Homo sapiens: one gene and its partners. The protein of the gene in region 4 binds, or shares a complex with, the protein of the main gene of each other region. Each region holds a gene or a part of one and is shown on either strand. Other genes may lie near its edges.

Region 1 (7,259 bases), on a different chromosome or scaffold from region 4:
ACTGTACAGCGTATTACAGGTTTCGTGGTTGCAAGAAGTTACGTAATTTAAGTTTACTGGCATTGCTACCCACCTAAGTCTAAAACTAAATCTAATGCTCCCATTTGCAATTTAATTTGTAAATTAAAGTCTTTTAAACATATGAACCAATTATGAATATTAGTTTAAAGGGGAAGGTGAGACTTAAAAGTATTCCCAACTAGATTATCTACACCAATACATTGGAACTCTATATTTTGCTTTCATTTTGTCTTAAAAAAATGAAATAGCAACGCTCTATCAGTCACACAGAGGACATGCAGATTTAGCAGTATTGATATTATACTCTATCTTGTTGGATTTAAAAACACCCTGTACCCACATGTACACCAACAGCAGGTCACACATTAACAGTTGTAACTAAGCACTGTGACAAATTAGCCAGTTCTTCCCACATTAGTCCCTATTAAAACAAAAATGGGGGGAAGGGAGCAAAATAAGTTGCTACAAAATGGGCAATATAATTTTGCCACAATTGCCAAGGTTTAAAAAGCAAAGCAATTGTAGCTAAAGACAACTGAATAAAATGTTTGCAAGTGTTTTAAGGAAAATGTATATAATCATTTTTAACCCCTGCCTTTTAGTATAAGGTCAATACTGCCAATTTCATCTGTGACAATAGCACTTGGAGTCATACCATTGCCTCCATTATTGATCTGATCCTCCTCAATCCTCCTTTTGACAATCCTAAAATGATTGAAATGTGCTCCACAATCCTTAATCCAAAGCATTCTTAATCCATCTCTTCAGATATGTCTACAGAAAGACACATGAAAAGCAAGATAAACATAAGAACTTCCCCAGGTAAGATAACCACAAACACCCCCAACATCCCAGTTCACACAAACCAGGGCAGATAGACATTTACACAATATCACAGTCTGAAGAGTATGGAGTTAACTAAATTTAAACAATCCTGTCTATGACATCACTTAAAATACAATTTATCAAAGACACGAAGGGAATGTAGATGTTAGGAGCAAGGGGATATTACAAGAATGCAATTCAACACTTTAGCCCATTCTGAACAAAACAGTTTGAATTAAAAAATGAAAAGATTGTACTGAATAAAGGAAAACTGTATACAACATGGGTTCTACAAAAAGTGTCACCAATCATCTTATGTACGAGAGCGAGATCTGCTATGACGGGGAGAATAGCGTGGTGATCCTCTGCTTCTCCTTGGGGAGTAACTGCGACTCCTGCTGTTGCTTCTGCTACGGCTTCTGCTACGACTACGGCTTCGAGATCGAGATCTTCCATAACTTGGACTTCTGGGCCCATCAACTTTAACCCGGATGTAGGCAGTTTCTCCCTATTGGATAGACAGAACTTTCCATTGAAAGATCTAAGCTTTCATCTATCTTCAGACATGCTGAATGAATACAATGTAACTAAAACCAGAAATCTGGCAATTTACTTGGACAACCTTGCCTGAATCCTTACCTTGAAATTCCACTGTTAAGACCACTGTATCCAATTCTGGTCAAAGAAAAGAATACGTGTATAACCTACCTCATGAGATCTAAACTTAGTGTTATCCAGTTTTCGAACTGCATAGGTCATATCTTCTTTCCGTACAAACTCCACGACACCAGTGCCATCTCGGTAAACATCAGCATAACATACATCACCTGCTTCACGCATGTGATCCTTTAAATCCTGCCAACTTCCACTTGGAGGCAGTCCTGAAAAAGTGATTTTTTTTTTCTTAGTACCAATTATCTTAAATTTCACGTTAAGCTGGTAAGGTACATTAGGACAAAGAGTACTTTAAAGTACTTAATAGGTGTACTTAAGTGATACCAGGTAAAGAGAGCTGGTAAGATTCTGGAATCCAGAGTCCAAAATTATTTGTAACGATCTTCGTATCTAGTACCGCAACCTAATTTGGTAAATCACCACAGCAGCAATCCTCGTTTATTAAATTCACCCAAAAACTAAAGCAATTTAAGACCTAGCATGAAAAATTTGCAATTATTAAACCTGTCACGCAAGAGAAAAATTTTAGGTAGTTTTCGTCCCTTCACATCAATCCACACAACCAGTACACTCACCAGAGACAACCACTCTGTTTTCAGACCGCCTGGATGGGGGGCCATAGCGACCTCGGGGAGCTCCGCCACCTCCACCCCCGCCGCCGCCTCGGCCTGTTCCACGGCCGCTTCGAGGAAACTCCACCCGCAGACGGTACCCATCGTAATCATAGCCGTCGCGACCATACACCGCGTCTTCCGCGTCTCTGCGGGATCGCAGAAAGTAAAAGGGATGAGAAACACCAGGAGGAGAAGCTCGCTCAGTTGGGAACCAGCAAACCCCCCGCACATGCGCACCCAACGTGGAAGAGCCCACATGCGCCGCATAATAGGAATGGCCCCTCCCCCACCCAGAAACACGCCAGGCTCCCAACCACTACACCAGCCCTCAGCGCCTCAGTTTCCCGCTCCAGCCTGCGAATGGGCTCCGGGGACGTCCAAGGCGAGGCGCCAGAGAAGCCACATCAACTCAGCTCCTTACTCGACTCCTGCATGGGCGATACAGTCTCGCCCCAACCTCTCTAAGAGCCCCCGCTTCCCCGTTCTCTATGTTAAGGCCTTGGAGCCTTCCCCAACTACTCGGACCTATTTCCTCAAGGCTGCAAGCCCCATGCCGCCTCACCGCGGGTCCTCGAACTCAACGAAGGCGAAGGGCGGTCCCCCGCGGCGATTCTTGAGGTCGATGTCGCGGATAGCGCCGTATTTGTAGAACACGTCCTCAATGTCCTTGGTTCGGATGTCTGGAGGTAAGTTACCCACGTAGATGCGGCAATCGTTGTTCCCTGCGGGGCCACGAATCACACCACCTCCCGACATGGCGGTGACGAAAAGCGCGGACTCGAGAACAGGCCTTCCCACCAAGCCTAGCGCACGGCAGAGCGAGCCCGCAGCGGCACCACGTCTCCCGCGGCCCCTCCAAAATGGCGCCTTTATCAGCTCGGCGCACGGATATGGGGGGGAGACAGAGGAAGAGAAGCGGAAGGAAACAGCGATTCGATCCCAACACGCACGCGCGGGAGCGCAACGGGTGCTGCGAGGGCTACGTTCAGCGCACGCGCACGCACGCGCGACGTCACCCTCCCCACGAAGGGGGTAAAAAAGTCCCCCGCGTTCCCAGCTTGGGGTGGTTTGCGAACAGAGTGACCAGCCGTTTGGTAAAAGTTAAATAACGAACTTTCGTTAAAGGAGCTAGTCATCCAGGTCGGGTCTTGAAGGATGGTCGATTTCTCCAGGAATGAGGATCTTTGAAAGCAACTCGGCGCCTTCAAAGCACTTGGTGAAACCTAGCCTAAAGCGTTGTCCCACCATGCTCTGCGGCGATAACGGCCTTTGGCGGGAAAGAGTCTCGGAGGCGGGGCCAAAGGGGGACGGCCCGGGCGGTTGCTCCGGAAACCCGGGTATCTTCGTAGGGTGCGTCTAATCCAGAGCTGAGTTGCGGGTGATTGAACGGAGAGCTGGGGCGTTGGTTTGTCTTCCCGCCCCTGCTGCGAATAGACCGTGGCTGCTTAGACAGATGTGTCTAATTTAGCGAAACCGATTTAGATTCCTTAATCCTCTTCATTAAGTACCGTTCCGCCTTCTCGTCAGAACTTTGCATAGCTCGGGTCAGCACTCCTAGTGCTAGTCGCAGTGGGTCCGTATCCCGACCGGCAACGTGGTACCCGCCAACCAGAAGGGGTAACACCGTACCGCCTATGGGACCCACACCTTTTTATCTCTTGTTAGTCGCCTGTCCGTGGGACTAGCGCAGAATGCCTGCAGAATGAATCGTTTCTGTTGTTTCCTTTCAAAGAACGAGAAGGAAGAAAGGGTGCGTGTGTGCAGTCCTTTTTTCAAAAGTTTTCCCTAAAAGTTACTGATACACCAGGTTTTGAAAATACCGGTCCTCTCAGGTAATAAAATGGAGCAAAATGGATGTGAGAACCGTAACCACTAGATACCGCGGTTGCTATTCAGGACTGTGATCCTGTTTGCCTGCGGCATTGGGAGATAACATTTTACATTTTTTTTCGACGTCTGAAATCTGGATTTTTATGTGAAATCCTGGGATTTTTAAACGTCGCTAATGAATTAAAATTCAAATCAGGCTGGGCGCGGTGGCTCACGCCAGCACTTTGGGAGGCCGAGGCGGTTGGATCACTTGAGGTCAGGAATTCGAGACCAGCCTGGCCAACATGGTGAAATCCCGTCTCTACTGAAAAAACAAAAAATTAGCCGGGCTTGGTGGCAGGCGCCTGTAATCCACTCTACGCGGGAGGCTGAGGCAGGAGAATCGCTAGAACCCTGGAGGCGGAGGTTGCAGTGAGCTGAGATGGCGCCATTGCACTGCAGCCTGGGCTACAGAGTGAGACTCCTCCAAAAAAAAAAAAAAGGAGGGGGAAACAACAACAAATTAAAATCAAACCCTGCAGTCATAAATTTGCCATAACAGATCTACACACTGAATTTAAGGGATAATTTTCTTCATGTTATTTATTTACAGTAGTCCCTTTCCGCAAGGATGTGAGGCAACTTACAGAGATACCATAAAACATGAAAACTAGATGAGGCTGGGCGTGGTGGCTCACTCCTGTAATCCCAGCACTTTGGGAGGCCGAGGCGGGCGGATCACCTGAGGTCAGGAGTCGGAGACCAACATGTCGAAACCCGTATCTTCTAAAAATACAAAACATTAGCTGGGTATGGTGGCGCGTGCCTGTAATCCCAGCTACTCGGTAGGGTGAGACAGGACAATCTCTTGAACCCTTAGGAGGTGGAGGCTGCAGTGAGCGGAAATCACGCCACTGCACTCCAGCCTGGGTGACAGAACAAGACTCCATCTCACACACACACAAAAAAAATGCTAGAGTAAGAAATCAGAGGAATGGGAAAATGAGGGGTGGATTAAATGAAATACGCATAAATTACTATACAAAATGCCTGCAGTGAAAGCCCGTTGAATTTGTTGAGATAGATTGCAAATTTTACTTTAGTCTTCCCAGAAGTCACGGTAAAGAAGGGTACAGAAGTATTGTGTATTCAAAATCCAAAGTGCCTTTGGGATAAAAGTAAATAGGTCATTCAGGAGAAGGACATGTTTTCTTAATTCTAAAAGCTGATGAAATATATTTTACAAATGTTTCTCGGTGACCCCAAAATACAAATTCAATTTGAAATGAGCAGGGATGCTTGGTCTTGTGGCCGTAGATCCTCGGTATATCTACAGATGACCTTTGGTAATCCTTGAGCTTTCTGTAATATTTTCGAAAATTATATGCATGTGTGCATGTACAAAATTATATGCATGTGTGTACTTTTTTCTGGGAAGAGGATTTGGAATTTTAATCAACTTCTTAAAGGAGTCCATAGATCCCAAAAGGAAAAAGAACTTCTGAAATTTGTCAAGGGAAGGATAGATTGCCTATTCTTCAGACCATCCTTTAAGTATATATATAGATGTGTGTTTGTGTGTGTGTGTGTATATATATATATATATATATATATATTTTTTTTTTTTTTTTGAGACAGAGTTGCCCTCTGTCACCCAGGCTGGAGTGCAATGGCATGATCTCAGCTCAGTGCAACCTCTGCTTCCCTGGCCTAAGTCATTCTTGTGCCTCAGCCTTCCGAGTAGCTGGAATTACAGACATGTGCCACGATGCCCAGCTAATTTTTGTATTTTTGGTAGCTGGGATTACAGGCATGAGCCACCACGTCCAGCTAATTTTTGTATTTTTAGTAGAGACGGGGTTTCGTCATGTTGGCCATGCTGGTCTCGAACTCCTGGCCTCAAGTGATCCTCCGGCCTTGGCCTCCCAAAGTAGTGGGATTACAGGCATGAGCCCCTGCACCTGGCCGGCTTTTTTTTTTTTTTTTTTTTTTTTTTTTGAGACAGGGTCTTGCTCTTTCACTCAGGCTGGAATGCAGTGGTGCAATCACAGCTCACTGCAGCCTCGACCTCCTGGACCCAAGCGATTCTCCCACCTCAGTGTCCTTCGTAGCTGAGACTACAGGTATGCATCACCACTTCAGACTGATTTTTGTATTTTTTGTAGCGATGGGGTCTCGCCATGTTGCCCAGGCTGCTTTTGAACTCCTGAAGTCAAGCGATCCTTCCATCTCGGCCTCCCAAAGTGGGGGGATTACAGGCATGAGCCATTGTGCCTGGCCAGAGCCTGATATGTTTTTAAATGAGAAGGTGACCAAAAAAGATACTATTTCAACAAATCTACTGTTTCTAGCATTGTTCCATTAAGTGAATGGCAGAAAAGAGGAGAGTTTTTAAAAACTTGCAGCCTGTTGATTCTTTCATTCAACAGTTATTTGCTGAACACATTTTCTTTCTGTTCTTTTATACATCAGTTTAAATTTATGCAGGCAAAGCTTCTGTTAATCATAAGTCAATGATAACTGAAGTGATAACTGAAATCAGTAGTTTATAATTGGATAGTTCATTTTAAGAAGGGATGAGACAATACACATAGGTACTTTTAATTTCAAGGTAATTTCATTCCAGAAAAATATAATTGAATTTGCTTTTTGTTTGTTTGTTTGAGGTGGAGTCTCGCTCTGTCACCCAGGCTGAAGTACAGTGGCAGGATCTCGGCTTACTGCAATATCCTCCACCCAGGTTCAAGTGATTCTCGTGCCTCAGCCTCCTGAGTAGCTGGGACTACAGGCATATGCCACCACGCCTGGCTAATTTTTATATTTTTAGTAGAGATGGGGTTTCATCATGTTGGCTAGGCTGGTCTTGAACTCCTGACCTCAAGTGATCTGCCCACCTTGGCTTCCCAAACTGCTGGGATTACAGGCATGAGCCACCACACCCAACCTGAATTTGCTTTGATTTATTCTTGTCTAATTTAATGCAGTAATTTCTGATTTTGTTCAGTTCAGCACAGTACAAAGTAAAACTTAATTGAGAGTGAATAGGACATTCTTATTTCTGTTGGCATCTTTTTTTGTATTTGAATGTAACCAACTGTTCTGGAGTTGATGATGAGGTCAGTATATGGCAGGAAAAGTCTTGACGGCTGTTTTATCAGGTCTTGCAGGATGGCGTTAGCTTTGTGATGATTACAATTAAGGATGTTACCAGTTATCCAGAGTTAACATATTTCAGTCCACAAGAGTAAAACATCAAAAAAGCAAGTAAACAATTTATTTGGAAATAAGAACAAAACAAGGTGAATCATTTTGAGG
Region 2 (5,632 bases), on a different chromosome or scaffold from region 4:
AAACCAAGGGGCCCTGACATGTCTTAAACCCTCCTGGTGTCAGAGAAAACCACGTACGTGCAATTTCTTCCAGGGGCCCCTTCTATGGGTTCATCAAAACAATGAGACTTGTGACTGTTATTATTAAGAGACTCATGATTAAATTGCAGGTTTCTGATTTTGCAGTTTCTATTTAAATAGGTCGAGACCTTAAGACCTACCCAGAAAGTGGAAAAGTGGTATACCCAGACTGAGGAAGTTTGATTCCAAAGTCCATGATTTCTTATACCAGCCTCAGTTACGAAAACCTTTAAAGAGGTTCAGGGAAAAAGGAACAATCTACATTTCACTGTGAGACTACCAAACTACTACCTGATTAAGAGGGGTAACAGCTTAGCAATTGAGTTAATGTAATTCAGGAGTAAAGTTTTATCATTAGTAAAGTGCTGTACCAGGTTCAGGAAATAGTTCTTCTTTACAAGTGTATACAAGGGTTTAAAAAAAGGCCAGCTAGATAGTAATTAACTGCAAAGCTGGGTACTACTGCCAGGTGTTTTCCACATTCAGGAACTCACACCAGGTAAAAGGCCTATACGCAAATAAATAAAAAGAGAGAATGGGGAGAAAAATCACATTTATTAGTTAAGACGACCACAGGCTGGACACAACACACATGCTAAAAAGTGGACTGTCTTTTAAAACTTCCAAGGTAAATAGGTAAATGTTTTCCACAGCCCAACAATCATTTCAGTGTTTACAAATTAAAAGGCCCACGGTTAAGACATTAAACAGTAAAATATGTAATAAATGCTCCAACCTACCCTCTCCCCCGAAAGCTGCTTCTAAGTTTAAAACCATGAATTTGACTAACCATGCCATTGAAAACCATCCAGGTTACTACAGGCTGAATTAGTTTTCAATGTCTAAGTCCTAGAAATATCACTCCCTATCCCAGCCCTAGCAAATTCTAACTTTACATTTGACATAAGGCATTAACATCAATTAAAGCCTCAGTTTAATAATCAGAATTTAAATGAAGTCTCCTGAAGACCTCTCTTCTGGCAAAAAAAAACACGTATCAGACTCTGGGAAAACATTCAGACCCACTTCTAGCTATTACTGAAATAAATGATTAGAAAGTTACGTTGGTGAGCCGAAGTTAAACCTAAAGCTATCCCCTGGATCTTTCTAGCAATAAACCCATGTTGAACCTACCATGAAAACTTTCATTCACTGTGCTTTTGGTTACGTTGCCTCCTGATTAGTCATTAATTTTAATGAGGTTTTTTCCTTGTGTTGAGTATGAATAGACCTTACAGTTTGAGGATCTCTAGAATTCCCTGAATTATTGGAAAGACATTCATGACTCCCAGTGTGACTAGTTAAGAGCCCCAGGGAGCCTGTGAAGACTAGAATCTACAAGTAACCTGCACTAAGAACGAAATTCAGTAAAGGAGACTCAAGCTTAGCTCCTGGCCATCTTAAAGGGCTAATGTATGTCTTTCACAGGTTTGTTCAACATTTCAGTAATTCACAGTATAGCCAAGAGCATGAGTATAAGTCTCTTGAAAAAGCCAGTTATTTGGAGCTTTTTAAATTATAAACTTTGAAAAAGTCACCCACGTTCTCACACTATATAGATGACTTTGTATCTATTTTACTATTTTCTCATTTAACCATACTAGCAAATAAGGAAAAAGGCTATTAAATGACTCCCCTGATGCTGGAAGCTGACAAAGCTTTTATGCAATTTAGCCTGTAACTAAAAATTCACCTGTATCAATTCATTCTGACTCCTGCAATATGAATAGCTCATTATAAAGAAGGGCCTTCTGATTCCCCCTGCCTCCCAAATTAAATAAAAAGGAACAGTCATTTGTTTTCATGGAAAAAAAAAACCAAACAAAAACAAAAAAAAAACCAGACCATCTTAAGCAAAGTTTTACATGACATTATATAAAATAAAGTACAATTTCCACTTAATTCAGTCTTCAAATATTTTTTATTGGAAGGCCATGCATTGCCTTCATTTATTGTATTTCAAATCACTGTACATTTACTTTTGTGAAAACACTGCCTGCATTTTCTAGTACAAAAAAAACCTAAAAATTGTTTCAGGAATGTAGAGAAATATCCAACTTAAATAGCGAAAAAGTGCACCATAATTACTGCTGCACTGCAGTCATTTCTGCAATTCCCATGTTTCTTAAATAACTATCTTGTCAGATAACACACAATATAAAGAGCAATTATGAAAAACAGACATTTACATATACTTCTAAAGTCTTATTGGGAATATCCTGTTGGCATTGGATAACCAATCATAGGTGCAGCTGCAGTAGCAGGATATGCATATGCCTGTTGGTTCATACCATTGTGCATATTTGGAACATTACTTCCGTATTGCTGAGTGCTATCATAACCATTCTGGTAAGTCCCTGTTGGATTACCAGTCCTAAAACTGGTCTGTATACCAGCAGACACAAAATTACTTCCAAAGCTCCCATTGGTGTAATTTGCAGCACTGTAAACACCATTCTGAGTTTTTGCCCCAAAATCTCTTTTAAGCAGGCTAGAGTAACCTCTGTCATAATTTTCCCTGTCTCTAAAGGTATTAAATCCACCCCTTTTGCCCGCAGAGTATCTGTCCCGACGGTCATCCTTCATGCCTCCTCTACCCCTGGAACGACCTGTCAAGAAAACAATTGCAAATTGATCAATTATGTCTATGACACAAATCATTGTGGACAGAAAGAAACAGATCTATTCATGGTAGGCGTGAAATGTTTTTACAATTTTTCAGCTTAAGTTTTCACATTCAAGGTTTTACTCACCCTCCAATACCATTTAAATGGATTTGTAGACAACGATGTGACTCGTAACTACCAACATTTCCTATCAGTCATCCTTACCTGAACCTCTGTCTTCGACCAACTGAAGCAACTTGGGATTAATTGCTTGATTAGCTTCACGAAGCACAGAGATAAGGTCGCTCACTTGCTTTATGTTATTAGGTGTAAAGAAAGTGTATGCTGTGCCTGTTTTGGTACTGCGAGCAGTTCTTCCAATTCGATGAATATAATCCTCTGAGGAGTTAGGGTAGTCATAATTGATGACAAATTTCACATCTTCCACATCTGTAAGGTGTTGCAGTGTGGCAAAATAGCAATGTACGGAGTTTTGCACACCACAACAGCCAGACCAAAAATAAAAAGTTAGACAATTGTATTCCCAAGAAGGTACGGGCTGCAAAAAATACAGTTAAAATGGTTATCCATTTCCTGTAGGAATACCATTGAGGTTGAAAAAAGAAAAAAAAGCACATGTCATCTGTATAATTCATCACCCACCCAGTGACAGACCCTGTCAAAAGGAATGTGTGTTCCCTAAGCACATTCCCAAATCAGCAAGTTCCCTTACAGATCATCAAGTGACATCTGAATGCTTCTGCGCAGTAGGGCCACTTAAAGTTTCACAGCAACCTCTTCATGTGCTCATTTTGAGGACCTTGAAACAAAAAAATGTACAAGGTCCTTTGCATTACACATTCATCAGAAGTTCAAAATTCTGGCCACACTGCTTGTCTTGCCAAGACCTTACAACCGCAGCTGCAAGAAAACATACCTGTCCCCCAAAAGTTGTTTTTATGCACTGTGTCTCGTCTAGGCAAGCGCTTCCAAGAAGCCAGGATTCACTTGAGAATGTGTCTCTCTCTGGCAGGTCTCGACATGACGACTACTGTGTAGGTGAGGGAGGAACTTTCAAAGCACTTTCTTTTCCCACTTACTATGTGTGAGAAGTTGCTCCTGCTCTAGATCTCATGTGCCAGTACTCACCAATTTGTAAAAGGCTTAGTACCTTTTAAAGCTGCTCTCTCCATTTCAAACTTGAACAAAAATTTCATTGAACATTGAAGTTTGGAACTACTTCTTCGACATTTCAGCAAACTCACTGAAACTCAAAGACCCACAGATCACAGTGAACAGTTTGAAACAAGGCTGTACCATGGCAGTCATGCAAAGCATGGGACAGAAGAAATACCACGGCAGTGAACTGTGAGGATAACTTCCATTTTTTCCCTCGGAGAGAACAGTTTACGGGGCAGAGGTGATATGTTCTGCCTTTTGAAGATTACTGGCACACGTTCAGCTTTTTCACCTCTCTAATCGACTGGAAGCAGCCAGCCGATCACTAGTCCTCCATCCCCCTCGAGTCCTCCGATTGTCATGCCTAGGCCTTGCCACAAAGACAGCACCTTTATGTGAAAAAAAACTTAGAAAAAATGCAGGTTAAAGAAAGCAATAAACTTTCTTTAAAAAAGTTAAATGGAGATCTTCTGGGAAACCAAGCCATGAATGCGAGTTTGTACTAACCTAGCCCTCTGGAGGCCACATCTGTAGCAATCAGAATAGGAGCTTTTCCATGTTTGAATTCTACAAAGGAAGGCATATACATGATCAATTATCTGAGCAGAATTCTAGCTAGGTTAAGTAAGGGGGAAAAATACTTCATTTGAAATATTTACCATTTAGAACCCAGTCACGCTCTTGTTGACTCTTGTCACCATGGATACCCATGGCAGGCCACCTAAGTTAAAAGACAAGTTGTGTTATTAAACTCACATTGAAAACCTCAGACTCCAGTGCTTGACCACTTTTGGTCACAGATCTCTTTAATTTCGCCAGAAATGAAAAAGTTAAATTCACTATCAGATATGAAAAAAATCCACTGCTCGTGATCCAAGTTTGCCCTTTCCTAAGCTGTTTTAATCAATCTGCTTCAATGGAGGAGCTCACACATACCCATCTCTCCTCATTTTTCTGGTAAGCTCATCACATCTTCTTTTGGTTTCCACAAAAACAATGGTTTTATTCTCCTTCTCACTCATGATCTCTTCCATTAGACGAATAAGTCTAATAATAGGAGAGAGAAAGGAAAAATCCTGAGTTTTAAAAGACCATTGCTAGGGCCACACATTTATGGTCAGCAAAACATTAAGTTCAATTTACATGGCTGGAAGTCAAAGAGGAAACGCCTGCTAATCCACTTATCGAGCAGTTCGACCCTTGGTCCTTAAGTCAACCAGGGGACACATGAATTCCTTCTATAGGAAAGCTATAAATGGTGACAGCCATTATTTGAAGGATTCAAGAAATTTTCAGGATTAGTAGGCTAACTAAATGAAATCACACCAACTGAAATAACCTAAAACAACTCACCAAACAATGATCCCTCAATTTTACAGCAAAGTTGTTAGGAAGCAAATATAACAGAGTTAATAAAACTTACTTTTCATCCTTTTCTACGTCATGACACACATCCACAATCTGAAGAATGTTGTGGTTTGCACTCAGTTCAAGTGCACCAATGTTTATATGAATATAGTCTTTCAGGAAATCTTCAGCAAGCTGTCTTACTTCTTTTGGCCAAGTCGCACTCCACATTAGAGTTTGCCTATCAGGCTAATGGATTTTGGGGGGAAAAATTAGTATCAGACTCTTAAGAGTGAAAACACAATTCAGTTTGATCACATATTTCAAAGGACACTTACTCTTATTTGATCCACAATCTTCCTTATTTGGGGTTCAAAGCCCATATCAAGCATTCTATCTGCTTCATCAAGGACAAGGTAGGTTGTTCTTCTCAGATTGGT
Region 3 (7,446 bases), on a different chromosome or scaffold from region 4:
CACTAGCGGAGTCGGCCAGCCCCGGAGCCGCGCACTCACCGCCTCCGCCACCGCCGCCGACTTCCGGGTGCCGCGCCCGCGCGCCACCGCAGCCAGCCCAGTACCGCCCAGCCCGAAGCCGGCGCGTTCACCATTGGGCCGCGCAGCGAGGGGCGGGGCGGCGCGCCGCATGCCGGCGTCCCGTTGGCTGGGCGCGCTGTCGCTCGGAGGCTGCCACCTCCTGGCGCCCCGCCCCCGGGGCTGCGCCAAAGCTTCGGGCTGCGCGGGCGTCTGAGCGCTTCCTGATCCAGCGGCCTTCGGGGACTCCGCGGCTCCCTGCCTGCAGGGACGCCATGGGAGGTCGCAGCCGCCCCTGAGTCCATGCCCTCATGGACACCATCTGTCACCTGCTCACCCTGCGGCCTCTCTCGGAAGAGGTACAGGAATGCTCACTTCCGGACTGGCCCCCTCAGACTGCGTCCTGGTCTCCCCATCCTGTTCACTCAACCCCACCTCTGGACCTGGCCATCTTCCTCTTGGTCATCCCTTCCTTCACTTTATGGCCTCCAGGTCGGCTCTTTCCTCCCTGATGTCCCTGCCATTCCCAGTATGTACCCCCAGACCCTGGACTAGGCATTTGAGCACTATACCCTGCACACCCACCACCTCCCCCACTTCCACCCCCCAGTGTAGCCTTTGAGCTCACATCCAGGTCCAGGCCCCAGCGACGAGGGGCTGGCCCAGCTTGACTTGTGCAGGGTGAGCAGGTGGGCACTGACTGGGGCCCTCCCAACAGGACAGAGGCATTAGCTGGGACCGCTGCTCCTGTAGCCTCTGGGCTGTGCCTGGGCCTATGTGGCAGAAAGGTGGAGAGTCAAAGCCCAGAGGCTCAGGCCCTGCCTCAAAGTGAGCATTCAAAAAACTATGACATGGATGACAAAGACATTAGGGATAATGATAATGTGTAAAGCACTCTAAACCCAATGTCTGGGTCAGCAGTTCTTTCATCCCACTTTATAGATGTAAACACTGAGACTTGGAGCAGTTATGTCATTCAGTTGAAGTTGAAAAAGGTGGCAAGCAAGAGAGGCCACATTAGCTTCAACCTGTGTTGAAGACCTAGGTGCCCTGATGCCCTGCAGAAAACTGGGGCTCAGGGATGGGAAGAGCCTGGCTGGTAATCAGCAACGGCAAGAGTCTAACCTGGACCTACATGCGGGCCCGTTGTGCTCCACACTTTTGCTATCTTATCTGTGTTTCCCCTGGAACCCAACAGAACCTTTTACAAGGACTCCAGATGCCCAGGGACTCATGGCCAGCGGGCCGCAGACCCAGCCAGACATGGTTGTCTCTCCCACCATCCAGCAGTGGGATCATGTGGGGCTGGTACCAGTGATTTCCCTCTGAGCAGCCAAACCTATGCAATCTATAGGGCCAAGAGGTGGTGGTGGTGGACAAGTGGGATCTGGGGCTTGGGGGTGATGGACTGTGCCCTGGGGTTCATGGCAGCACCTGGAGAATGGGCTTCCCCAAAGCACCAGGCCATGCACCTCAAAGCTGGACATGAGTTGACCAAGGTTTCCCTTTGCCCACAAAGAGGGATGCAGTAACATGTCAGATGGTGGTTTGCATCCTGTTCTGTCATACCTTGTGGCCTTGGGCCATCCCCACCCCCAGCCATACTTTTCCCAGCTAGACAGAGCCAGAGCAGACACTCTGATCTTCTTTGTCACCACTGACACTCCAGTCTGGATGACATGCGATGCCAGGAAGCAGGTGACGGCAGATGAAATGGGTCTAGGATGGGCACCTAAGCCCTGGGATCTTGGGGCTGCAACAGGCTCACTGGCATCCAACCTCTAATTGCACACAAACTCAGATAGGAAGCTCACTACCTTCTGTGGCCACTCTTTTGATTTCAACAGCTGCCACTCTTGAAAAGTTCTTGACACCCAGCTGAAAGCATTTTCTCTCTGTGGCTTTCTCCGGGGGCCTCACAGCTGTCCGCATGGAGCTAGGTGAGAGGATGAGAGAGGGAGAACACTGGGCTACTGGTCCCTGTGGTCTCCCTTGCTGTGTTTTTCTTATCTTTTTCTTTTTTCCTTTTTTTTGAGATGGAGTCTCGCTCTGTCTCCTAGGCTGCCGTGCGGTGGTGCAATTTCAGCTCACTGCAACCTCCGCCTCCCAGGTTCAAGCGATCTCCTGCCTCAGCCTCCCAAGTAGCTGGGACTATGGGCGTCTACCACCATGCCCCGCTACTTTTTTTTGTATTCTTTTAGTAGAGATGGGGTTTTGCTATGTTGGCCAGGCTGGTCTCGAACTCCTGACCTCTGGTGATTTGCCTGCCTTGGCCTCCCAAAGTGCTGGGATTACAGGCATGAGCCACTGCGCCCAGCCTCCCTTGTTGTGTTTCTGACCCCTGGCTGCAGCCTAATGGGCCGACTGCTGGACAGCGGTCCTGAGTCCTGTTTGAATTGGTGCTGCCCCGACATCCTCTGACCTCAGCTAATGATCCTGCCTGCCGAGGGCAGACAGGTCTCTGCAACCCTATGGGTGGTAGGGGTGGTGATGAGAGGAGAGGTAGTCTCACTTGCACAGATTTTGGTGTATGGTTCTGTCTTTTGCACTCTTTCAACAGAGGTCTGTCCAGTCCCTCTTGCAAGTGTGGGGAGGGGGTGGTGCAGGACTATGAGGTAACTGTGAGAAGAGGGGCTCCAGCAGAACCAGGGTCCAATGGCCTTGAAGAGATGGCTGGGGACAGCTGGACTCATTACGTCTACTCCTAAATGGAGGAAACGACCCCTCAGCTACACAGCACCTGAGCCAGAATGTCACCATGGTGCTGCTCCACAGGATGACAGCTACCTGGTTTGTGAGGGCCCCTATTCTAGGGACAGCTACTTCATTCTGCCCTCCCAGAGCAGCAAGCAACAACCCTATGCCAGGAGGCCAATTGGCACGTCAAGTGCCAGCTCCAATCGATTGATAGTAGCTGCCTGGCTCTGAAAGGCAGCTGGGATCGATTCACCATGCTGCCAGCACACAGATGGACCCAGCGGTGGTCCCAGCAGTGAGTTCTTGCCTTGGGCCATTTCATTTTCTTTGTCCTGGCCAAGGAATGATTGGATGAACACACTGGACTCCCAATATGGGTGGATAAGACAAGAGTGTCTGGTCACACCCCTCCACCACTCATAAGCATGGTTGTGGGCAGTTTGGTTCCCCAGGCGGCCTTGGAGAATGCAATGAGCCGAGGAACTGGTCATCTCCAGGTGCATCCAGGGCAGGAAAGGATGACAGCATGCGTGAGCCAGGGTCACTGGCTAAGAAGTCATCTCAGGACCTCCCCCTAGAAAAGCCCACTGGGCAGCATCCCTGCTGGTTCCCCCCTACACCACAAGGTTACGCAGAGCTGGCGGAGGGTCATGGTCCCACTCATGTCAGGTGCTCTTAATCTGGCAAGGAAATGTAACCTACGTGAATCTCAACAGGCAGTGAAGCACCGTTTCTTCCTGACTCCAGGTAGGGTGAAGAAAATGGGACAGTAGTACGGGGTGCGGGCATAAACGCACAACTCTGCCTCCCCAGACGCAGAGCTGTGGGGCTGTGAGAATGCCAGGAGGAGGTAAGAAAGGGCGGCCCCATGGGGGGCCTGCAGGGTGGGACAAGCCCAAGAGGTCTCTACATCCAGGCCTGGTGGGGGAGGTGAGCCCCTGGTTTACCGAGGGGGTCCCTTCCTGCCCTCGGAAATACTGCAGCTCCTACCTCCATCGTCTCCCCGCTGCGGGGACCCAGGGGCGTGAGGATGAGAGAGCCCCCAGGCCCCAGGGTCAGACGACTGTGTTCAAGCAAGTGAGAACCTCTCTGAGGCTGTTTCCCAACTGTAAAATGGGGATAGCAGCAGAACTCTCTCTCGCGGCTTGCGTGAAGAATACAATTCGATGTCGACAGGAGGGAGCGGCGCGCAGCGCGCAGCGAGTAGCAGGCGCTGAAGAAGGATACCTGTGAACTGGGAGTGGTGGCGGAGGCTACGCGGCCAGAGTCCGGGGAAGGGGCGCCGGCTCTGCCAGTCCCTGCTCGGGGCTGGATGGTCGGGGGATGTTCTCGTAAGTCGGCTGGGAGGGAGCGGTCCCGCGTACCCTGCCACCGCCGCCGCAGAGGTTCGGGCAGGTGCGGGGCCGCGGCCCCTCCGCGAGGGGGCCGGTCATCCGCCGGGACTGACATCCCGGAGGCCCAATGGCAAGCCGTCATCTCCGCGCATCCGCCCAATCGGCGCCGGTTGCCGTGCCGCGCCGGGTCTCTCGACCAATGGGAAAATTTGCTGTCAGATGGGGCGGGGCGGAGATTCGCGTCGCCGGCCCGGTCCGCTTTGCGCACGGGCCGCGTGAGGGCGGGAGGGCTGGCCCGGGGTCTCGGGTTGCGCGCTGGGCCTGGAGGGAGGGGGCGGCCCCCGCACCGGTCCGAGTTGCGGCCGCGTGGACTGCGACCCGCGCCGCGCCGCACCGCGCCGCGCCCTGGGAACGCCGCTCCCCGCGCGCCAACGGACCCGGGGAAGCCCTTCTGGGGTCCGAGGCCGCGCTGCGGGGCCGCCCACGCTGCGCTCCAGGTAAGCCTGAGCCAGTGGGCGGGGTGTGGGACCCGGGGCTGGGGCCTCGGGTCGGAGCCGGGACTGGGGGCGGGGCTGCAGATATGGGACGCATTCCGGGCAGCGGTCCGGACAGGGTCCTATCCCTGGAGTCGAGATCCGGGCGAGGGTCTGGGCCGGACGTCGGAGCCAATCTCCGCCCCACCCGCGTCTTGTCCGCGCGCTCTGCGGCGTCCGAGACCCCGGGCCGGCGGGGGCGGGTCTCTTTGTGCGTGGCCTTGGGGCCCTACCCTACCCGTCCGGGCGTCTTGCACTGAGCACTCCAGCCGAGCGCGGCCCGACCCCGCAGCCGTGCCCGCCCCGCGCGACGCTTGGCGCCTAGCTGCCAGGGCCCTGCAGCCGCCGAAACTTTCCAACAGCCCGAGGGGCGGCAGGCCGGGAACTTTCCTGGGGCAGCGCGCCGCCGGGAAGCTCAGGGGCACCGACGGCCCGGAGGTGTCCTCGCGCCGCGCTGCTCCTGCCGCCTCGGGGGTGAGAGAGGGCGCGCCACCCGGACCCCCGGCCTGGGTCCCCCTCCCCACGCCGCCCTGCGCCCCCTCGGTGCCGGTGCGGAGACATGTCATCTCCACTCTGAGGGAGACTGCTCGGTTTGCTGGGGAGTCGCCCTGGGCAGGTGGCCTGAGAGCTCCAGCCTATTTTAATTTTTAAATAATTAAATATTGGCTGCTTACAATATTTCACCGTTTCTTAGCTATGTGTAATGTAACATACTTAAAATGGAACTAAAGGACTTCAGCTCCCTTTCCCTACATCCAGGCATATTTAGAAATAAGGAAAAGAAAGGTGCCCCGTGGGTATTTTTTAGAGTAGGCTCTTAATGCTGCTGTCTAATAACCTCAGGTGAGTACCCAGGCTGCTGTGGGGGAAACCTCCCCTATGGTATGGGCCAGGGGGGTGCAGTGGGAGCCTCCACCTCTCCCGACCTTAGCTTCTCTGGGGTAGCTGCCTTTACTTCTTCCTACTTCTTAACTACTGCCTTATCTGCCTTTACTCTGGGATCTGGGCGGTGTTTAGAGGTCTGGTCCAAACAAGGCAGGTGTTACCTATCTTGTACTCACTCTATTGGAGCTGGGATGGTGCTGAATGCAGGGGGGCAGTCAGCGCTCTCTTGCCCGGTGTGCCATGCCAGTGGCCGGTCAGCTCCTAAGCAGGTGATCCAGGCCTTAGATCAGGCGACAGTGTGAGCCGCAGCGTGTCTGGGAAGGCATTTCCCCCAGTCTTGCCCCATCCTATCCGCAATGTCTGCTCCCAGCTGTCCCCTGTCCCCACCCTACCCCCATTCTGGGGTCCACCAGCGCCCAGCAGAGGACTGGGCACAGAACATTCGCTAAGGGACTCAAGTCCCAGCTGAGAGGGTAGTTGAGCACAGCCAAGCCAGCCCCTGCCCAGCTCTTGGCTGAGCTGCCCTGTCAGGCTTTTCAGCATAAACACAAGGACCTTCTGACCAAGGTTCCTCCTGGGAGAACAAGTTCTGACCCTCAATCCTGCTAAATTTGAGTCTCCCCACCCACCACATCTGGGCTGCTTGGCTCCCATGTTTGCTCTGGCACTCCCTCCAGAGGTGGCCCTGTAGTCTCCCCCCAGTCCCGGGGCCCTCTGCATCTCTGTGGCTCTGTGAGGGTAGGGTAGCACCCCTCCTTCTGTTTGTGCTACACAGGGATTCAGGGTGAGTTCCCTGTGCTCCTTCACCCCAGGAGTCTGGCCTGGGGGAGCATGAGGCTGTCCTGAGTAAGGACAGAAGGTGCAGGAGCAGCAGGATCCCCGGTCTCTGGGTGGAGCAGGGAGCTCTGCACACGGATGCCAGGCACCACCCTCTGTCCAGCCCATCTGTCGTGCTCCCCGCCTGGCCCTGGCAGAGGGAGTGACAGGGTAGAGCTGGGATAGGGAGTCAGGGCCCATTCTGTAGACAGGGCCAGGAATGGAGGGTGGGGGTCCAGGGACAGCACTGCAGAGCACCAGCTGGGCCTTGGGGGTCCTGGGGACTTCCCTGATGGTGGCTTAGTCATGGGGAGGTGTCTGTTCTTTTGTCAGCAGCTTCAATTAAGACCAGAATGAGGCCGGGCGCAGTGGCTCATGCCTGTAATCCCAACACTTTGGGAGGCCAAGGCAGGTGGATCACCTGAGGTCAGGAGTTTGACACTAGCCTGGCCAACATGGTGAAACCCTGTCTCTACTAAAAATACAAAAATTAGTCGGGCATGGTGGCATGCGCCTGTAGTCCCAGCTACTCAAGAGGCTGAGGCAGGAGAATCGCTTGAACCGGGGAGGTGAGGGTTGCAGTGAGCCAAGATCACACCACTGCACTCCAGCCTGGGTGATAGAGCGAGACTCTATCTCCAAAAAACAAAAACAAACAAAACAACCAGGATGGGCTGGTCACGGTGGCTCGTACCTGTAATCCCAGCACTTTGGGAGGCCGAGGCAGGCAGACAGATCACCTGAGGTCAGGAGTTTGAGACCAGCCTGGCCAACATGGTGAAACCCTGTTTCTACTAAAAATACAAAACAAATTAGCTGGACCTGGTGGCATATGCCTGTAATCCCAGCTGCTGGGGAGACTGAGGCAGGAGGGTTGCCTGAACCTGGGAGGCAGAGGTTGCAGTGAGCCAAGATTGTGCCATCGCACTCCAGCCTGGGTGACAGGGTGAGACTCCGTCTCAAAAAAAGAAAAAAAAATACCCACAAAAAAACAAACAGAAAAACCCAAGATGAAGTCTTGGGTCACTCTGAGGGGACTTGGGATCAGGGATCCCTTAGTAGGTTTTCCTGGCTCAGGGCCTTCATATCTTGGCCTGTTTCAGGTCGGGAAGATGACCCAGAGC
Region 4 (3,508 bases):
TTTAACACATAATTGTAAGCCTACTTCTTTTTAAACATACAAACGTGCCTTCTAGTTTGTGGTGAAATAAAAAGGATTATTTATTTGCTTTCACTTCTTTGGATTTTAGAGAATACTATCTTGGTAAGTACAGTCTCCAAAAGTAGCTCAATAGTCCTGTAGACATGGTAAGTTTTTTTTAAAAAAGAATGTACAACTTTAATATTAATCAAAAAAATACAAATTAAAATAGCAATGAGATATCATTTCTCAACTAAAAAACTGGCAAAGTTCAAAAAGAATAATGTGCATCAATAAGGAGGGTATAAGGGGGAAAATAAAACACACACTCCAAGTAGAAAGATAAAGTACCAGAATCTTTCTGGTAACACAAATCAGAAGCCTTAAAAATGAGTATATCTTTGACTCAGCAATCCCATTTCTAGGGATATATCTTAGAAATAATTAATGATATATGCAACAATGAACATATAAAGATGCTAAATATCATTTATAATTTTAAAATTAAAAATCTTAACTTTGAGGGAATTGTAAAGTCAATCAGTGTGCCCATATGACAGAACATAATAAAAATCAATCAGTTCAAGATTTTTTCCAGTTTTTAAAAGGAAGATTTATTTAACAAGTTTCACTTAGTACAATACATCTAAATGGAAATCACAATACAAGGAAAGATTTAAACCAAAGCCTCAGATTTTCATACAAACGACACGACCAAACTTCTAAAGTATTGGTATTACATCTTAAAATTGTCCCGTATCCTTAAAAAAAAAAAAAGTGTACACTCACGTGCCTTACAGGATATTAAACCAAAAAGCTAGAATTAACAAACATGCCAAATGTTTTCACTTTGAATCGTAGACACAGCTCCTATATTTGAGTTTTACAGAAAGGCATGTTTCTCAACATGCATCCGAAGTTTTCAATGTATTTGTGGTATAAGAGCAACATTTAACATAAGTGAAACTGCATTAACCTAAATACGCTTACTGCTTAGGTACACTCCTACAACATAACTAACTTGAGGAAAGCTAAAAATTGTTTTAACAGTTATGGTCAATACTGAACTTTGTTATTATGTCCTAGATGAATGTTTCAGTGTTCAAAATTACTGAGCTTGAAGTTTTAAAATAATCTCAACTTCCACTTTACAGTAAGCATGAATCACAAGCCTGTAATGCAAAACTGTTAAACTTAACTCGTTTTCTTAAAAAAGGAGAAAGAAAGATAAAGAAAGAGAAGCTGACCAAGAGTGATCAGAATCAATTATATTTCCCATTTACCAATCATACTGGATATACTAAACATCCCTCCCATTCTATTCAACTCCCACAAATGTACAGCTTTTATATCTGGAGTAGCTATTTAGTGCTCCTTCTCTACCTAAGCAAGGTTTGACTGATAGTCACTGGAGTTTTCCTGCAGAACTTGGTCATATCCACTCATACTGCTCTGACCACCATAACCACCTCCATAACCACCACTCAGCTGCTGGCTAGCAGGACCTCCATAACTAGACTGGTTGGATAAGCCCATCCCTCCCATCATTTGGCTACCATAAGCGCCACCACTTGCCCCTGCTGTAGAATTCAAAAAAAGTTCTACATAGCTGTGATCGTAAGCACCCCCACTTGTTCCTGCAGTAGAATTTAAGAAGAGCTCCACATATCTGTGTTGCATATTAGCTTTGTCTTTTGCCATAGCTGCCACAGCATCTTCATGAGTAGCAAATTCAACATCTGCCTCACCGGTAACTCTGCCATCGGGTCCAATTTCAATATGTACTCTCATGGGATTAAGAGGTGAGAAGAAATTATAAATATCATTCTCAGTGGCTCTGTAAGGTAACCCCCTCATGTGTACACAGTGCCCTGTGGTGCTCTGGAAACTGGACCCACCATCTCCGTATCTATGATCAGACATTCCTGAAAAACAGTAATTGAGGTCTCTTCCAAATCTATCAGACCCAAAGCCATATCCATCATTATAGCCACCATAGTCATCATAGCCTCCATACCCTCCACCATAGGCACCACGCCTCATCCTTTCAAACCCAGCTCCTCTGCCAATGCTATTATACCCTCTGCCAGCCCCCGGCCTATCATAGGGACCTGGCCGCTGCATAGCCATGAGCTTTCGAGGGGGATCATAGTGGGTTCGAACTTCAGCTCGGCTACTCTTGAAGATCTCAATGTACCTGTGCCCTATTCTTTCCTTGTGTTTCTTTAAGGCCTTCTCAGCTATCTCCTGTGAAGCAAACTGCACAAAGGCTTCCCCTGTGCTTCGCCCCTGAAAGTCCACTGGCAGTGTCATCCCATTTGGCACAATTTCCAACCCTGAAAAGAACTGAACAATCTCTTCCTTGCTACAGCCAAATGGGAGTCCTCTAAGCCGGACGAAGCCATCGTTGGCAGTATCAGGGCTATTCGGACCTGTATGCTTCAACACCCAATCCATTTCAACACTGTTAGACTTGAATACTTCAACGTATCTGTGTCCCATGGTTTCTCTGTCCTTCTTCAAAGCCAATTTCACTTCCTCTTCAGATTCAAGTTCAACAAATGCTTCACCACTTGGTCTGCCTTCTCTGGTGTAGATGAAACGAATACCTGATGTGCCATTTTGGATCTTGCAATCAGAGAAGAAGCGCATCACTTCATCGGCTGAGCAGGACCAGGGTAGGCCCCTGACCTTCACCACGAACCCCTCCCTGCCTTCCGTGCTCAGCATCATGGTGATTGTTGGGCTCTTGGTGGCAAGTTTGGCTCAATGCAATTTTGGTGTAGCTGAAAAAAAAAAAAAGAAGACTACTGTCATGGAAAAATGCTCGTGATATAGTAAGAGAAAAAAGCAAACTATTAATAGAAAATTCAATTATGCTGACAGCTTTTCTGTAAGACGTCTGTATAAACAGAGAGTTCACCAAATTTTTAACTCATTCATTTTTTAGCAGTTATTTATTCAATGCCTATTACGTGTTAGATACCATTAAAAATTAACAGCAATCGGCCGGGTGCGGTGGCTCACGCCTGTAATCCCAGCACTTTGGGAGGCTGAGGTGGGTGTATCACCTGAGGTCAGCAGTTCGAGACCAGCCTGGTCAACATGGTGAAACCCCGTCTCTACTAAAAATACAAAAAATTGGCTGGGCGTGGTGGCAGGTGCCTGTAATCCCAGCTACTCGGGAGGCTGAGGCAGGAAAATCGCTTTTATGTACCCAGGAGGTGGAGGTGAGCCAAGATCACGCCACTGCACTCCAGCCTCAGCGACCAGAGCAAAACTCCGTCTCAAAAAAAAAAAAAAAAAAAAAAAAAAAATTAACAGCAACAAATCAGTGGGAGATGTCAACAAATAAAAGATGGCTATATCTGAATATATAAACATAAAAAACTTCACTAGATCAAAAGATTAAACAACAATTAAAACACAAACAAAACACAGGTTATGTAAGTTCTTTATATAATATCTTCATTATATAAAAATGTATGCAAATCAATAAAATCAGGGA

The links.
Region 1: HNRNPH2 (region 4) and SRSF1 share a complex: the UniProt entries of both Homo sapiens proteins name them as parts of the ribonucleoprotein complex.
Region 2: HNRNPH2 (region 4) and DDX5 share a complex: the UniProt entries of both Homo sapiens proteins name them as parts of the ribonucleoprotein complex.
Region 3: HNRNPH2 (region 4) and ARVCF share a complex: the UniProt entries of both Homo sapiens proteins name them as parts of the ribonucleoprotein complex.

The regions. Positions count from the first base shown.
Region 1 is NC_000017.11:58,004,247-58,011,505, forward strand, and holds the start of SRSF1 (serine/arginine-rich splicing factor 1), read right to left. Parts: upstream 3,001-7,259; 5' UTR 2,892-3,000; coding exon 2,698-2,891; intron 2,282-2,697; coding exon 2,097-2,281; intron 1,728-2,096; coding exon 1,555-1,727; coding exon of another isoform or gene 1,501-1,554; exon of another isoform or gene 1,355-1,500; coding exon 1,160-1,354; 3' UTR 1-1,159. UniProt on the Homo sapiens protein: Plays a role in preventing exon skipping, ensuring the accuracy of splicing and regulating alternative splicing.
Region 2 is NC_000017.11:64,497,658-64,503,289, forward strand, and holds the end of DDX5 (probable ATP-dependent RNA helicase DDX5), read right to left. Parts: coding exon 5,531-5,632; intron 5,442-5,530; coding exon 5,269-5,441; intron 4,893-5,268; coding exon 4,782-4,892; intron 4,567-4,781; coding exon 4,505-4,566; intron 4,413-4,504; coding exon 4,353-4,412; intron 3,657-4,352; exon of another isoform or gene 3,557-3,656; intron 3,183-3,556; exon of another isoform or gene 3,117-3,182; coding exon 2,892-3,116; intron 2,670-2,891; coding exon 2,266-2,669; 3' UTR 597-2,265; downstream 1-596. UniProt on the Homo sapiens protein: Involved in the alternative regulation of pre-mRNA splicing; its RNA helicase activity is necessary for increasing tau exon 10 inclusion and occurs in a RBM4-dependent manner. Binds to the tau pre-mRNA in the stem-loop region downstream of exon 10.
Region 3 is NC_000022.11:20,013,728-20,021,173, reverse strand, and holds the start of ARVCF (splicing regulator ARVCF), read left to right. Parts: upstream 1-4,350; 5' UTR 4,351-4,585; intron 4,586-7,446. UniProt on the Homo sapiens protein: Contributes to the regulation of alternative splicing of pre-mRNAs.
Region 4 is NC_000023.11:101,411,214-101,414,721, reverse strand, and holds the end of HNRNPH2 (heterogeneous nuclear ribonucleoprotein H2), read right to left. Parts: intron 2,787-3,508; coding exon of another isoform or gene 2,734-2,786; coding exon 1,384-2,733; 3' UTR 589-1,383; downstream 1-588. Other genes in the region: RPL36A-HNRNPH2 protein, read right to left, coding at 2,730-2,786. UniProt on the Homo sapiens protein: This protein is a component of the heterogeneous nuclear ribonucleoprotein (hnRNP) complexes which provide the substrate for the processing events that pre-mRNAs undergo before becoming functional, translatable mRNAs in the cytoplasm. Binds poly(RG).